2 separate regions of the Homo sapiens genome follow, and region 2 is linked to region 1. Evidence: fine-mapped expression QTL. Tissue or cell type: whole blood. Region 1 holds a variant in brackets; the other region holds the start of a gene. All regions are shown on one strand. Distances are between the middles of the regions.

Region 1 (8,110 bases):
AGTGGCATGACTGTTTACAATAAAGTCACACATACCAGGGCACAGGGATTTTTTAGTTTAGAAATCCTTGGTTTTGGTTCAAAATATGTACAAGAACCCTCTTGGACACTGTAGCTATTGAAGCTGTAAAAACATGCACCTGTTTGCCTTTTGTAAGGAGGCAACTTTTGATACATTTAATCTTTTAGATGCCAATGAAATAAATAAAAATGCCCAATAGTTTGCAAATCTTTTCTCCCATTCTGTAGGATTAATTTCAAAAGATACAGAAAAGCACTCAATTAAATTCAACAGGGTGTCTCTTCAGTTTGTTAATTGTTTCCTTTCCTATGCAGGAGCTTTTTAATTTGATATAACCTCATTTGTCTACTTTTGCTTTAGTTGCTTGTGCTTTTAAGATCTTACTCAGGAAATTTTTGCCCAGACCAATGTTCCAAAGTATTTCTCCAATTTTTTTCTAGTAGTTTTATAGTTTCAGGTCACACATTTAAGTCTTTAATCCATTTTGATTTGATTTTTGTGTATGGTGAGAGATGGGGCATAATTTCAATCTTCCACTTTTGGATATCCAGTTTTCCCAGCACCATTTATTGAAGAGTGTGTTCTTTCTCCAATGCACATTCTTATTGCCTTTGTTGAAAATGAGCTGGCTGTAAGTGCATAAATTTATTTCTGCATTCTCTATTGTGTTCTATTCGTTTGTATGTCTGTTTTTATACCAGTACCATGCTGTTTTGGTTACTATCCCTTTGTAGTATATTTTGAAGTCAAGAAATGTGATGCCTCCAGCTTTGTTCTTTTTGCTCAGAATTGCTTTGACTATTGGGTGTCTTTTGTGGCTCCATATAAATTTTAGGATTTTTTTTCTATTTCTCTGAAGAATATCACTGGTATTTTGAAAGGGATTGCAGTAAAGCTGTAGATCCCTTTGGGTAGCATGGACATTTTAGTAATATTAATTATTCTAATCCATGAACATGAAATATCTTTCCATTTTTTGTGTCCTGTATTTTTTTATCAGTGTTTTATAGTTTTAATTGTAGCGATCTGTCACTTCTTTGGTTAAATTTATCCCTAGGTATTTTATTTTATTTTTTGCAGCTATTGTAAATGGAACTGTTTTCTTGATTTCTTTTTCAGATTGTTTGCAGTTAGCGTATAGAAATGCTACTGATTTTTGCACGTTGATTTTGTATCCTGGAACTTTATTGAATTCATTTGTCAATTCAAACAGTTTTTTGGTGGTCTTTAGTTTCTTCTAAATAAAAGAGTATATAATCTGGAAACAAGGACTATTTGACTTCTTCCTCTCCAATACAAATGCCCTTTATTTCTTATTCTTGTCTAATAGCTGTAACTAGGATTTCTAGTACTATAAAGAATAAAAGTGGTGGAAGTGGGCATCCTTGTCTTGTTCCAGATCTTAGAGAAAAGGCTTTTAGCTTTTTCCCATTAAGTATGATGCTATCTGTGGCTTTGTCATATATGGCCTTGGGATGTTGAATTTTATTTAATGCTTTTTCTGTACCTTTTGAAATTAACCTTTGCTTTTCTAATGTGCCTCAAAATTGAAAAACTTTATCTGAATTAAAACTTCCCCACTGTGGCCACAGTAACCCTAACTTACCTTTGGTAAGGTTCATCCATTTATCTATAAAAGCATTCTTGTACTGTATATAAAATTAACTGGAGTTACAGATGGAGGAATTCTTGACTTTTTAGATTCATATGAACTCATGATTCCTGGTCTGCTAGGACAGAGAGTTCTAGACTCCTTAATCCAAATGAACTCCCTATCTTGTAGTCCAGTTTCTGTCTGATCTAGACACTGCAAACCCCAAAGGTTATATGCCTTCTTACAGCACAAGATAATCCTTGGTACCCAGCTCAAGTTCACGTGCTCTCTCATAGCACAAATTAACCTCGGATTTGGGCTCAAGGCAAAAAGAAAGATCCTTTATTCATGATTCTAGAATCAACTTCCAAATCTAGTCCAGATCAAAACTTTGCTCAAAGATAGCTCAAAGCACAAATCTGTGGAGCTTTGGAATCCAAGAGAGAACTTACTCATGAGCCCCAGATGCAGCAAGGAAAAAATAAGCACAGTGCAGGTAACTATACCTGGTTACCCAGTGCCCCTGGCAATCACTGGAGTTCTGCTTCAGATCCCGCTGACCACGCCAATCTGTTAAAAGAAAAAAAACCCTTAGACTTAAATTTACCGGAGTTTATTTGAGTAAAACAAAATAAAACAATACAAAAAACAATTCTCAAATTGGACAGCCCCCAAAACCAAAACAGGTTCAGAGGACTCTGGCCAAAAAAGTGATCTGGCAGCATTTAAACAGAAGTGAGGTATAGAGACAACTTAATTAGTTATAACTTAGTTGGTTAATTGGTTACAGAACCTTCTGTGATTAACTGAAGCTCAGCTATCATGATAAAACTCTATATTGGTTTGGTCTGTTGAGTCTTGTGCAGGAGCCCAGTCCAAATCCTCTTAGAATTTTATTTGACAGGTATATATCCAAAGGAAATGAAAGCAGCACGTTGAAGAGATAACGGCACACCTATGTTCATTTTCATTGCAGCATTTTTCACAATAGCCAAGATATGGTGTCAACCTGTGTCTCTCAGTGGATGAATGAATGGATAAAGAAACTGTGGCATATGTATAAAATAGAATTCTATTCAGCCTTAAAAAGATTGAAATCCTGTCATTTGCAACAACATCAATGAACCTGAAAGACATTATGCTAAGTTAAATAAGTCACACAGGAGAACAAATACTGCGTGAACTCATTTATATGTGGGAGCAAAGAGTCAAACTCATAGAAGCAGAGAGTTTAATAGTAGTTATCAGAAGCTGAAGGGTGGGAACATTGAGGAGATGTTCGTCAATGGGTACAAAATTTTAGTTTGAGAGGAGCAGGTTCTGGAGATTTATTATACAGCATGGTGACTATAGTTAATCATAATGTATTGTGCACTTTACAATTGCTAAGAGGGTAGATTTGTGCTCTCACTATAAAAGATATGTGAGATAATGCATATGTTAATTAGCTTTATTGACTTATTCCACAGTGTATACACATATCAAACTGTCATGTTGCACACCATCAATATACACAATTTTTATATGTCATTTGAAGAAAACAATTTAAAAAGGAGCAGGGTATTATTCTCCCTATTATTTAGGGTATAGCATTTATATAATTTATTTGGAATTCTGCTACAAGATAGATTTGTCTCTTTTCTTCAATTTGTCAATTTATTCAATCATTTATATCAGTATGAACTCA[T/C]AGATATTTATTTTGTACTTTTGATTATAATTCAAGATGACTTTTTTTTTTTTTTTTGCTAAGTTTCTTCAAGCTTTGGCCATTGGGAGCTGTTTCTGTTCATTCCTGTGCCCCGTTGCCGTACCCCCATCAAGGTTTTTGTTTGCTTGTATTTAAAACATCCTTGTTTTCAAGCACTTCAAGATATCCCAGACTTGTCCAGTACATTTCCTTTCCTCGGTCTAGAAATTTCTTTTTCTCCATCAGTATTGCCAATTCTTTATTTTATTTTTCTTTAAAGGCATCAGATTTCAGTACCTTAATCATCTCTTTTTTTGTGTATCTTTGTTTTCTCTTTTGTTTATCATTCTGTCATTATTTTAATCTTTCATTTTTATTGCCTAATTCTGTTTTTTTTGGTTTTGGTTTTTACTAACTGCTGAGTTGAGCATCGAGATGAATAGACTTTTACAAACACGGATATTAATTTTGAAATAAATATGGTTGGGTTCAACTCCTTTTTGCTGACTTTAAATTATATTTAATTGTGGTCAAGATTGTGCTCAATATACTGATTGTATGGAATTTTAATTGATATTTATTTTGTACCCCGAATTGCTAAATTTTTGTAAATGTTTTATATCTGTTGTAAAGCATTTCTCTTTGCTTTATGGTGGTGGTGAGTCATATGATCAAAGTTGTTAAGTTTGTTCAAACTCTTATAGCATTATTAATTTTCTTCTCTCCTTTGTCACTTTCAGAGAGAATGGTGTTAAAGAAAAATCAAAACTCCTGCCATAATTGCAGAATCATCAGTTTTACCTTGTAATTCTCAGGATTCACTTTCTATGACTCAATGCCATATGGTTAGGTGTATGATGTTCATCACTGTAATATGTTTCTAGTGAAGTTTTCTTTTTGATAGTTATAAAATGTGCCACTTTGATCCTATAAATACATTGCTATCCCAGGTTTCTTTTTTTAATATTTGTCCTGTTGTGCCTTTTTCAACCTCTTAATTTTCAGCCTCTTAGTTAACTCTGTTTTAAAATTGCTTTTTAAAAAAGGACCTTTATAAGTCAAATCAGGAAACTAGCCCTTGGGTGAAGGACATCAGTTTCGTGACCCTGCTATGGATCGATTACAGCAAAGTGGCCTCCAGTGTGGCTGCCAGGGGACGAGGGTGACTTTTTCCCATGGACGTCTTTGTGCACATCCTGTAAACCGAGCCCTATGAGCTGCGGAAACACAGGCAAGACCAGGCAATTGTGGACCACATGGAGCCCAGGGCACTAGACAGCCAGCAGCTGAGCACCTAGAGGGAGGCCCAGTTGACCAGGAGAGCCGTGTTAGGCCTGAGGCATCTCCCTCTTCACTGAGCTCAAAGCCCCAGTTTGCCTGTGGCCGTGGGTGCCGTTATGTGCTCTCCACGCCTCCGTCCTTCAGTGGCCCTAGGGGCTGCTTCCCATAGCGAGGTCACCATGACCTGCAGCTCCCAGAAGCCTGGCTGGATCCCATTGCTGACCCTCATTCTGTCCACCCCAGATCTTCATCCCCAAACTGGCAGACATGGTCGTGGTCATAGTCGTTGTGCTCTGGAACTGGGGGCTCAGGAGCCGACCATTCTGGCTTAGGCCAGGAGGCCCCTCTTGGTGGGCACAGTGCACTTAGTTCTGGGCCCTGAGCCTCATCCGCTGTATACAGATGAAGCTTTGATGGACAAAGTTGCACCTTTGAACTTGGGGCTTCAGCATCTTGCCAAGGCTTCTGGGTGCTGCTGTGCCCCTGATCATCAACCCTTGGGGTCCCCACTGAATCATGATGAACCCATGCACCCTGGCCCCTATGCCTGCTAACCCAGGGTAGCACCACTCAGAATCTCTCTGACATTGTTCCCCTGACTCCTCCCAATGTCATTGTGTCTTTGAATAAGTTCTGCAGGGATGCTGCTCCAGATTGCACAGCCCCTGTGAATCTGGATGAGACTGAAGCAATGGACCACTCATGCCTCTAGGATCCTGGCCCCTACTGAGGTTGCCAGAATCTCCTAAGCCCCTGACTCATCTCCTGGTGCTAAAGGTAGACAGAGCTGCACCTCAGAATTTGGAGATATTTGCCTTCAATGCAAGATCTCAATCATCTGAACCCATGACTGTTGAATATGTTGCCAAATGTGGCTGCCCCTCTGACCTCAACTACAGAAGCCACAGAAGGCTCCCAGCCAAGCACAGTTCGGGTCTGGACCTGTGTATTAGATTCTTCGACCTTCAAGAACTGACACATTTTCAAGGTTACCAAATGCTGCCTCCTGTTTGTTAAATTTGACACTCCTAGTGTGTATCTGACATGTAAAAAAAGGAAAATCCTGAAAACATATTTTAAAATCACAATTATAAAAGAGATATATCTAAAACTAAGTGATTCAGAAAAATTGAAAACTAAAAGAATGGGGGAAACTGTACCAAGGAAAATGCAAAAGCAAAAGGAAACAGAGGTGGTAGATCTTAATATCAAACAAATGTAGACCAAAGGGACATAGAAGGACTCTTTATAATACTAAAGGCTAAATTTCACAATGAAAATACAGCCTTTATAAATAGCCATGCAACTTTTTCTTCCATTAAACTTTTAATTATTTTTGTTTTGGTATAGTATACATGTATAAATTACAATTTTCACCATTTTAAGTGTATAGTTTAGCTGCTTTAAGGACATTCCCATCGTTGTACAACCATCAACACCTTCTATCTCCAGAACGTTTTCATCATCACAGACTAGTACTCTACCCATTAAACAGTAACACCTCATTATAGCCTGCCCTGGCTGCTGGTATCCCTTGTTTTATTTCTCTAATAATTTCAGTATTTTAGGTACCTCATGTAAGTGCAATGATACAATATTTGTCCTTTCATGTCTAGCTTATTTGACTTAGCATGATGTCCTCCAGGTTCAACTACGTTGCAGCATGTGTCAGATTTCCTTCCTTTTCAAGGCTGAATAATATTCCACTGTAGGTATATACCACATTTTGTTGATCAGTTCTTCCACTGATGAACACTTATGTGGTTTCCACCTTTTGGCTCTGTGCATGGTGCTGTTATGAACACTGGTGTAAACATATCTTCATGTGTCCCTGGTAAAACCATTTAATCACCTTTTAGAGTAGGTTACACATTCTTCATTGAACATCATTAATACCCCTGTGCGTCTGCCTTGATTGGAGATCTGATTAAATACCTGCAGTAAATCAGTTTTTAATGTCATCTGAAATTCAAAAATTGTAATTAAATTTAATTAAAATTTTAGATTAAAACTTGTGTCACTTCTCCTGAATTTTAAGAGACTACTGACAGCTGCATACCAAATATATGCACACCAGCATCTATTACTATTTCAGGGAATTCATGGATCTCTCAGTTCTATCCTAAGTCCCAGGTTTAGGAGTCTAAAGTTTCTCTCAGTATCCCCTTATCACGGATGTCTCCTTGGCTTTGAAACAGCGTTTTCAGTCTTCACATAATCTGCAGAGTTTGGGGAGAGTTGTGCTCCATATCTTTTTATTCCTGCTGGCAGTAACTCACTATGGGCACAACATGGCTCTGTGGGAAGCTGGGCATGGTGACCAGGTGGCTGTGTGAAGCCAGGAAGCTCTTGCCAAACTCACAGCCAGCACTGTACATGCACTGAAGCTCACGGGATCCCTTTACCTGGCACAGGACGGGCAGTGCAAAGCTTGTGTGCTTCTGTCAGAGTGAGCGTGGGTGGGTAGTGGGCACTGCTTCTAGTGGGCTTCCTTCTTCATGGCCTTCTGGTCTCAGAGGCTGCCAAAGTCCTGACTGAATCCACATAGGGTGAGCGCTTGCACAGAGAATCCAGAGGCGGGTGTCCAAGGCCCCTGTGCTGGGCTCGAGCAGTGCTTGGGAGACGGTTACCCACGGAGCTTTCCGTGCTGGGCTTGTCTTTCTAGGGGGAAAACAGGAGGGGCGGGCATGGGCTGCAGGGTCCAAAGTGGAATTTACCACAGTTGGAAAAGAAAGTTCTGGTAAAGTATTATTTCTTTTCTCTTTTATGGTATAGGGCTCTCCTTTTTATGGTACAGATTTAGGCCAGAAATTTGAGATCCAGCCTAGAACCCATGTGAGTTTCATTAAGTATAAATTGCAGTTTCTATAAGACAAGTTTGAGTAGTACTTTTAAAACAGAAGAATTTAAGTAACTTTACTGTACTGAAGACAGAAAAAAAGGACAAATGTAGGGATATAGAAAACAAACAACATTAACCATAAGGTAGAATTATGTACCCAGTAATAGAGAATATCCCCTTATTTTCAAGTACCAATGGATAATTCACAACATTTGACAATATATTAGGGTTAAAAGAAAACATGAATAACTTATAATTTCAAAAGAATAAGAAAATATATATATTTTTTGAGACAGGATCTCGTTCTGTCACCCAGGCTGGAGTGCAGTGGTACAATCTCAGCTCACTGCAACTTCTGCCTCCCAGTTCAAGCAATTCTCCTGCCTCAGGCTCCCGAGTGAGTAGCTGGGATTACAGGCATGTGCCACCACGCCCAGCTAATTTTTTGTAGTTTTAGAACAAACAGGGTTTCACCATGTTGGCCAGGCTGGTCTCGAACTCCTGACTTCAGGTGAACTGCCCATCTCGGCCTCCCAAAATGCTGGGACTACAGGTGCGTGCCACTATGCCCAGCTAATTTTTGTATTTTTAGCAGAGATGGAATTTCGCCATTTGCCCAGGCTGGTCTCGAACTCCTGACCTCAGGTGATCTGCCTGTCTTGAACCCCCAGAGTGCTGGGATTAC
Region 2 (8,097 bases), 38 kb before region 1:
CTCCTGTCAATTAACAGATATCGACTAAATGTTGAACAAATGAATAAACAAGTAAATGACTAGCAAGCCTGTGAATATTACTCAGTGCATCTGAACTATTTGGAAAGAATTTCTTACATAACCAGGATACCTAGGATGTCATAAAAATAATCATTTATAGATCTACAAGTGCTATAATATTTAGACACGGTAAAGGAGATTTCTAATATAAGAAGATATTACTTATATTCAAAAAAATTTCTACCTTAGTGTATGTGAGAAGATAGATGTAAATATTTAATACTTTGGTTTTACCTTCCTGGCCTGCTCTTCAGCTCTTTCTTTTTTAATTTTTTCCAGTTCTGCAAGAAGAGCTGCAGTATCATCATCATCACTTTCTTCTTCAAAATCTTCATCTTCCTCCTAAAAGAACAGTGAGAGCCCAGAAGATTGGAGGGAAAATACACACTACCAAAACACAGTACATATGTACAACGTATCACCCTAAGAAAGTCAAAACAATTTTATGTAGCTCAAAACAACTTTAAGCTAGCAGCAAAGATACTCAAAAGTGCAAAAAAGTGTGCTAAATTCTCAGAAGAAAATAATTTCAAATGAATAATCATTAAATTTCAGTTGAAATTAGGTTTCCTGTTTTAACTATTATGAGTAACTCCATCAATTAACTCTAGAATTAACTGCTGATATGTATACATAGTTAGATATTACTCATTGGATGCCACTCAGGTTTTTCACTGTCCTGTATGTAGAAAACTGCAAATTGATTATAGGCTCTAGGGTCCCACAGAATTTTAACATTAACTGATGTGCTAATCCTTAAAAACCTTCTGCTTAGATTACTTCCCTCCCTAAGCACAGAGGGAACCATTAAGTGTATTGCACTTATAGAAGGGGACATATCTAATATGGAAAGGCCTCCAGGTACAACTCTAGAGGGCACTGTTTATAGGAAGCCCAGTATGAAGAGTGCCCTGGAGAGGTGTGTAACACAGCAGTAGTGCAGTAGTTTAGTACAGGACATTATTTTGGGGGAAAGCATATCCTTTTATAGATTCCTTCCATATTTGGTTCTCTAGAGATCAAACTTGTTCTTAAAGTCCCACAAAATAATACTTTTGATTTTAAAATCAACTATAAAGTTTAGCACTGAGGTCAGGGCTATATTTGAATAACAGTAACTAAACATAAATATATGTCACTTCTTAAAGCAAAGACATAACAAGTATTTTAGAATAGCATGGTAAATCAATTATTAGAGATGAAAGGAGGAAACAAAACATACATCTGTTAGAGGGTCATCTGCATCAAGGTTGGCGGCAGGAATCTGGTCTAACCGTGGCTTTTTTGACACTGAAGAGGAGGTTGTATGTTCTGGGGGGAAACAAAAATCATTTAACTTAGTAAAACAAATACTTCATTTCTTAAAATGTTTTAGGGACCTGTGAGCACAAGGAGCCCACATTAAAAGCATTATCCACAGTGAACTCACATCCACAGTGCCTGGGCAAATAAGCCTTTGGTAAATATTTGTTGTTATTATCTCTAATGACCTAAGAAAGTAGTACAGCTCACATCAATCTGTAAAAGTAAACAAATGGTTAACATTTTCCAATTGCTACATAAAGAAAAACTATCAACAACATAATTTTATGAGACAAATGTCTTGGATAGTGTTGGTACCTCGGGTTGGACGATCCCTATTTTTCTCTCTTGCAGCAGCTCTCTCTCTTTCTTCCAACTCTCTCCTGAAGTCACGGTTACGAACCTCTTCAGGGGCATCCTGAGTAGTCTGTCTAAAGTAGAAACAAACCAGGGCAAAAATGTTACTTAAACACACACACACACACACACAGAGACTGTAGTAATGGAAGACAATTCAGGAATGAGACTTTGTCCTTCAAGCAGAAAAAAGGGAAGTAGACAAGATCATAATTTAATCTGAAGGTTACTAACAGCCACTCTTGTGATGTTCCCAATATTTCAAGAAGTCCAAATTCAATCACATATTTTCCTATAATAAGGCTTTACAGTGATTAAAATGTCTTTAATTTTTATTAGGATTATATCAACTCAGAACTTAACAGTAATACTTTTAATATACTGACTGGTGCTCATAGTGCATACTCTGAGGCATTATTATTTCTATTATTTATTGTTCTATCTACATATGAAAATTCCTGGTTAGTAGGAATTTCACATTTTAAAATCACAGCAGAATTTTAGTGTTAAACATCCTATTGCATTCTATTCCTATGAAAATAGATAAGTGACATAACTCAAACATACTACTATATCATGACCATGCCATTTAACAGATCTGGTCTTGTTTTGTGAACAATAAAAAAAGAAAGTCTTACTACCTGTATTTTATCTTTGTATGAGAGGGTAGGTCTCTGCTTGAATACTGCTTTGAAAGTTGGCTCAAATCACCTTCTCCTTTTCCCCTTCCACCTCTGGCAGGTTCAAAGGTTGGCCTGGCTGCTGTTGTCATCTTTTATGCTTTGAAGAAAAATATAATCAAGTTATTTCCAACATTACAAACACTCATTTTATAGAGTATTAATCAATATCCATACTGGTAAAATAAGTTCTAAAACTCATTCCCCAAAACCTGCTTAATCTTCTTAAACAAAAGTTTTCAAGAAAACAAATTATGAGGCTTAGGCTGTACAAGGAATATGGCTTCTCAGGCTTGCCTTAGTACAAAAAATTCTGTCATGAAGATCTGAGTTTGCATCCCTATTCTCCTTCTGACTATATGGGCTTGAGCAAGTCACCTGGCTTAACTTTGTCATCTGTGGAATGGAGATATTCCTCATAGATTATAAGAATTATGACACTTGACATGTCAAAACCCTAGTAAAATACAGTACTGCCATGACTGAGTTTTAAAAATTTCCAACTCAACCTTACTCTACCAGACTCTGTAAGGTTTGCATTTTATCTAAACTTCACACAATAGCAAATAGGCTAGTAGAAACAAAAGCTAAAAACAAACAAAAAATATCACTGACAAAGTTACTAAATGTCCCAGAGAAAAGTGTGTTAAACTTCAATGACAGTTACACAGAAAAAAATTCTTAAACAACCGTTTGTTGAGCCAATTTTCTCCTACAACAGGCATCATACTATAAATTAGATCGTTTGTGGGTTATAATTTAAGGCCTGTTCAAAAAAAACAGGAACCTCACCCCCAGAGGATTCTGATGCCAAAAATCAGGGACTCATTCCTCAAGTTACTTTCTGCTTGGAGCAGTCACAAGAATACTGTGCAGCAGATGCAGTCACTAAAACCCTGTTAGTGTCGGAAAAGCAAGTGTGTGGGGAGGGTGGGCGAATTGGGAGGATTTTTTGGGGGGGGGGCGATGCTAATTCTCTCAACTTTCAAAAAGGGTAGAGACATGTATACAAAGAAGAAAACAGGGTTATCTGGCGCTGGGGGCGCCGCCCCTTCCCACACACCCACGGAATTATCACTCCGGCCTCCCGTGAGCTAGTCTTTGGCTATAACCAGAAACTCGCTGCCTCTTCACCCGTGCCCAGCACTGCAGGGGTGCGAAGGGTAGTGAAGGGAGGACCTGGGGTTCGCTTTACGCAGTAGGCGAGCTGCCTGTACGCTGCGATCTCCTCGGCGGGCCCAAGAGCTCCAGACGCGCCTGACAGGCACTCGGTTCCGCCCCTAGCCCGCTGCTCCAGGGCCTCCACCGCCCGCGCTCTGCACTCTGCCGCCGACTCCGACCCCAACTGCCCTTTCCCGTCCCATCGCGATAAGAAAGATAATCTCCTATCCTCTTGCCGCTCACACTGGCCGAGGTCCGATGCAGCAGGCTCCGAAGATCATACAGACGCCATTACCACTCTTGGCTCCCAGAAACCTCTGCGCCCAGAGCTAGCGCCTACGACCCGGAAGCAAAATCCAAGCGCTTCGGGGGCGGAAGCAACGACCAATCCGCAGTGGCCGAAGTGGAAGTCGGCGTAACGGCACTAAGGGGCGGGGCCGAAGCGGCCCAGGGGGCGGGCGTTTGAAATCAGTGCCTTAGAGTAGACCCTAAACCTCATTTTATACCTTCAAGAACCAATTACTTAATGTCTCTTCCGTCTTTTCCGTCCCCGACCCCCTCCCAGACTCCTTCATTCCGGTACTGCGTGGACGGAAAGCCCCGGGTAGCCGACACCACGTCCCCGGCTAGCGGGAGAGAGCGTGGAAAAGGATTACACCAAACTGTTTAAATCCAACGACTCCTGCTTCCATCCTTTCTCCTGAGCTAGAACCAACAAACCTAGAGAGTTGGGCTTCGGAAAAACTAGTGTTTTCATTTAATTGGATATGAAGAAAGAACAAATATGTACGGGGCAACCACGATCTTTACAAAGGTACCATTCCTGCAAAAATATTAACACTTCAAAGCAAAGGTTGTATTCGTAATGTTTGCTAAAATTTCTTATTTAAAAAACGTTAGTTTTAGTGGGAGGGGAGATGTCAGTATTTACGAGAGCGTTTACAATGGTGGGCCCAACTACCAGGAGCACAAGATGTAATTATTAAGATGGCTACTTAAGTGTTAAGTTTTAATAAGACAACGAAAAGTAGAAAACCCGAAAACCAAAAACCTACCAGTCGTCTCTCCTCCCTTCCATAAAAACAAATTCTGAGAATAGAGATCTTGGTTGTTTAGCTCATCTTGGTATCTCATCACATAGACCTTGACGTATAGTAGCTGCTCAATTAATATTTGTTAAACAAATGAAAATTCAACTTCCCCAACTTAGTTTAAAATGTAAGGAACTCACAAAATTGAATATTTAAATGCTTTCTTACCCCTAAATTCTTTGCAACTTTTTAATGAAGAAAGAAAAGCAGAAAAAGCCCTTTCAGTCATAGAGTTCAAGATGAAAATCCTGATTTTTCTTACCGAAGGTATCCCTCCTCCAGTCTTAACAAGTCTCACTAAAAGACGCGATCATCATGCTAGTTACTCAAACCAAAATCCCGGAGTGCCTACTTAAATTCCTTTTCATTCACTCTTCACATACGGTTCATTTACAGGTCTTAACAATTCTACTTTTAAAACTCACCCGCAATTTTATTCTACTGCCACTACCCTTGCCTTTGCCAACACCATCTCCTACCTGGATTGTAATTGCTTCCTATTATATCTTCCTGCGTCATCTTTTATCCTACAGTCAGTGTTGCATATAGCCAAGAGAGTGATCTTTTAAAATTAATAAAATGGTGTTACTATCCTGTGTACAATTTCACTGCACTTAGAATAAAAATCACATTTCTTAATGTGACCTGAGACCCCACGGAGTCTGGTTCCTGCCTACCTTCCAGACTTCACTTCCAATCAGTCACTCGCTTACGCACTAAGCTCTAGACACAGCCAAGTGGGCATTTCTGTTTTATAAAACAGGGCAAGATTCCTTCTATTTTAGGGCCTTTGCACTAGCTTTTCTCTGTTGCCTGTGCCCCAAAGTAACTGTATCACCATCCTTCATGTCTCAGGTATCACAGTGAGGTTTTCCTACCCCCACCCCTCCAACACTTGTGTTTGTACACCATCACATCACCCTGTTTCATTTTTCATACCACTAAACATTACCAGAGTCTATTCTATTCATTTTTTATTTCCATGTCTCTCAGGAGACAGCATGCGAAGGTCATTAAGAGAAAAGGATCTTCAGCCTGCCCATTTTTGTTCTAAATTCCAGTTCTGCCCTTTCCTAGCTCTATAACCTTAGGCAAGTCATTTTCCCTTTCTGTGCTTTCAGTTTCCTCACGTGTAAAATGGGCGTAATTCTAGTCCCTAACTTGTAATACTACTCTAAGGATTAAGTGAATTAATACTTGTAAAGTGCTTAGAACTGTCTCAGCAAATAGTACTTGCTAAATAAATGTTAGCTATTATTATTATTATTAATATTATTTTTATTATTATTGTCTATCTTCCTATATTAGAACATAAGTTCCAGGAAAGCAGGAACCTTGTCTCTCTTGTTCACTGGGTGTATCCTCTGCATATAGAACAGTGCCTGGCACATAATAGGTGCTGAGTAAGTATTTGTTGAATGAATGAATGAATGAATGATGCACTATGAAGTAGAGGAATGACGTAACAATGGCAAGATGGTAACACAATTATAGGAGATACCCACAGTTTTTATGTTCCAACTGTCCTCATTAGCCTGGAGTGAATCACTTCATTGATTTAACTCCCAGCCCACTAACCTAATCTTTTGGTTGCCAGTGGTGATAAATAGCCACCCTATAATTTCATTAACACCAATATACAATATAGTCAATCCACAAAATTAAAAGCTTTTGACTTAAATGAAAGTGCTAATAAGAAAATGAAACTAAAGCTTTTGACTTAAATGGTTTGAAAGTATTAAGAAAAAGAAACTTAAGTTTACTAAAATCTTGAAATTCATCTGATCAGTTAACCTAGCTGGCAAAAATCATATAACCTCCCAAGAATTCTTATGTTAAACCTGTTACCACAAAATCTAGTTTGGCCCTTAATTCTGCCTGCCAGTCCTCTTATGCTCTCCTAATTGTTTATTTTCCCCCTCTACAATAATATAATTTCCCACATTCCCCTTTCTTCAAGTCTACATGCCTCTTTCACCTCCTTTTCCCTCTGCATTCTCTTTCCTGGCAGTAGATCTTCTCAGTTCTCTGAGAAAACAGAAGCTCTTAAACAAGGACTTCTCATCTCCTTTTTTCCGCAGATCTATCGAGCTGCCTTTGGCTATTCCTGTATCCTCAGATTCTCATTATTACTGGAGATGAGGTGACCCACACTCTCCCTTGTGCTCTGGGTCCTAATTCCTCCAGGTTTCTTAGTGGCTGGCATTTTGCTATATATTTTCTCTTTCTTATGATCTATGAGGCCATCCCTTTCAGATCATTTTTATCAGCTTTTGGACATGGTATAGTATATCTTAACCTTAAAAAAGGCTCTTTCATTTTAGTATGCCAAAGGTAGCATTTAATTAAATGTGAAAGGGATGTAGTTTGGCCCTTGATTGCAAAACTTTCTATTTTTATGGCAGGAGTAGCATAGGAATTCCAGTTTAAAGCTTAAACAAAATCAACACCTAAAAGGGAAAATAGAAACCATAAAAACCTAAGAAGAAAATTTAAGAAACTATTTATAGAACCTAGAATTTGGAAAGACCTTTCAATCAAAGCAGAACACCTTAAGAGCTTTAAAAGAAATACTTTTAAAAATTCATTTATCCAACAATTAATTTTATAGCTGTAGATGCCAAAAACAAGTCAATAAATTCTAGATTCGCAAATAAATTTTGTAATGCCTATAACATATAAAGGATTACTGCTACTGCTAGTGATACACATAATATAAAAATCACAAATTACCCAATTAAAAAATGGACAAAAGATATAAGCAGGCCATTCAGAAAAAGCAATTTCAAATAGACAAGTCAATAAACATGAAAGACACTCAACCTTCTAATGAGGAAAATGAAAGTAAACTAAAAATGGATTATCACATTACAGCATCCGATTGGCAACAATTAAAAAAATTAATAACATAGTTGGATGGGATTGAGAGAAAAGGGGATCCAGTCAGACAGCGGGGGGCATTGGTCCCCCATTACCCTCACAGTAAAAGCCAAGGTGTTCACAATGGTTTCCAAAGTTTTCTATGGTCTACCCTTTCCCCTACCTCTTTGACCTCATCACTTGCTCATGCTTTTCATGGCTACCTCCTTCATATTGTTGCTTGGACACGCACACAGCTGCTCCTGCTTTAGGGCCCTCACACTAGCTATTTTCTCTGCCAAGGCTATTCTTTCCTGTCTTACTCAAGTCTTTGTTCAAATGGAGTCCAACGAACCTTGGGCATCTCTACTTAAAATTGCAACTGTTCTCCCTCTCTGTCCCCTAACATTCTGTACTCCGTATCTCCCTTCCCCTCTTTCTTCTTTTTATCTTTTAAAATTATATTATATATAATTACATGGCATTTATCATCTTCCATGACCCTATATAATTTAGTTATGTTACATTTATTGTCTCTTTCTCTACTTCTCCCATGTAGAATATAAGTTCTAAAAGGGCAGAGATCT

The links. PIP is the estimated chance that this variant, and not a neighbour inherited with it, causes the effect.
Region 2: CWC15 starts here. The variant in region 1 is fine-mapped to the expression of CWC15 in whole blood (INTERVAL, PIP 0.97).

Annotation. Positions count from the first base shown.
Region 1 is chr11:95,007,465-95,015,574 of GRCh38, forward strand. It overlaps the pseudogene LOC100420801. Among named protein-coding and RNA genes, the nearest start is that of KDM4E, 14 kb to the right of the region's middle. The variant T/C (reference allele first, on the strand shown) is at 3,303.
Region 2 is chr11:94,969,695-94,977,791 of GRCh38, forward strand. CWC15 (CWC15 spliceosome associated protein) reads right to left here and starts at 3,862. Exons shown (of 7, transcript NM_016403.4): 1 at 3,804-3,862; 2 at 2,361-2,499; 3 at 1,681-1,793; 4 at 1,283-1,371; 5 at 295-402. The coding sequence starts at 2,491. It overlaps KDM4D (lysine demethylase 4D), which reads left to right and starts at 4,015. Exons shown (of 3, transcript NM_018039.3): 1 at 4,015-4,374; 2 at 5,960-6,054. RefSeq lists enhancers at 3,139-3,914, 3,629-3,798, 4,119-4,268.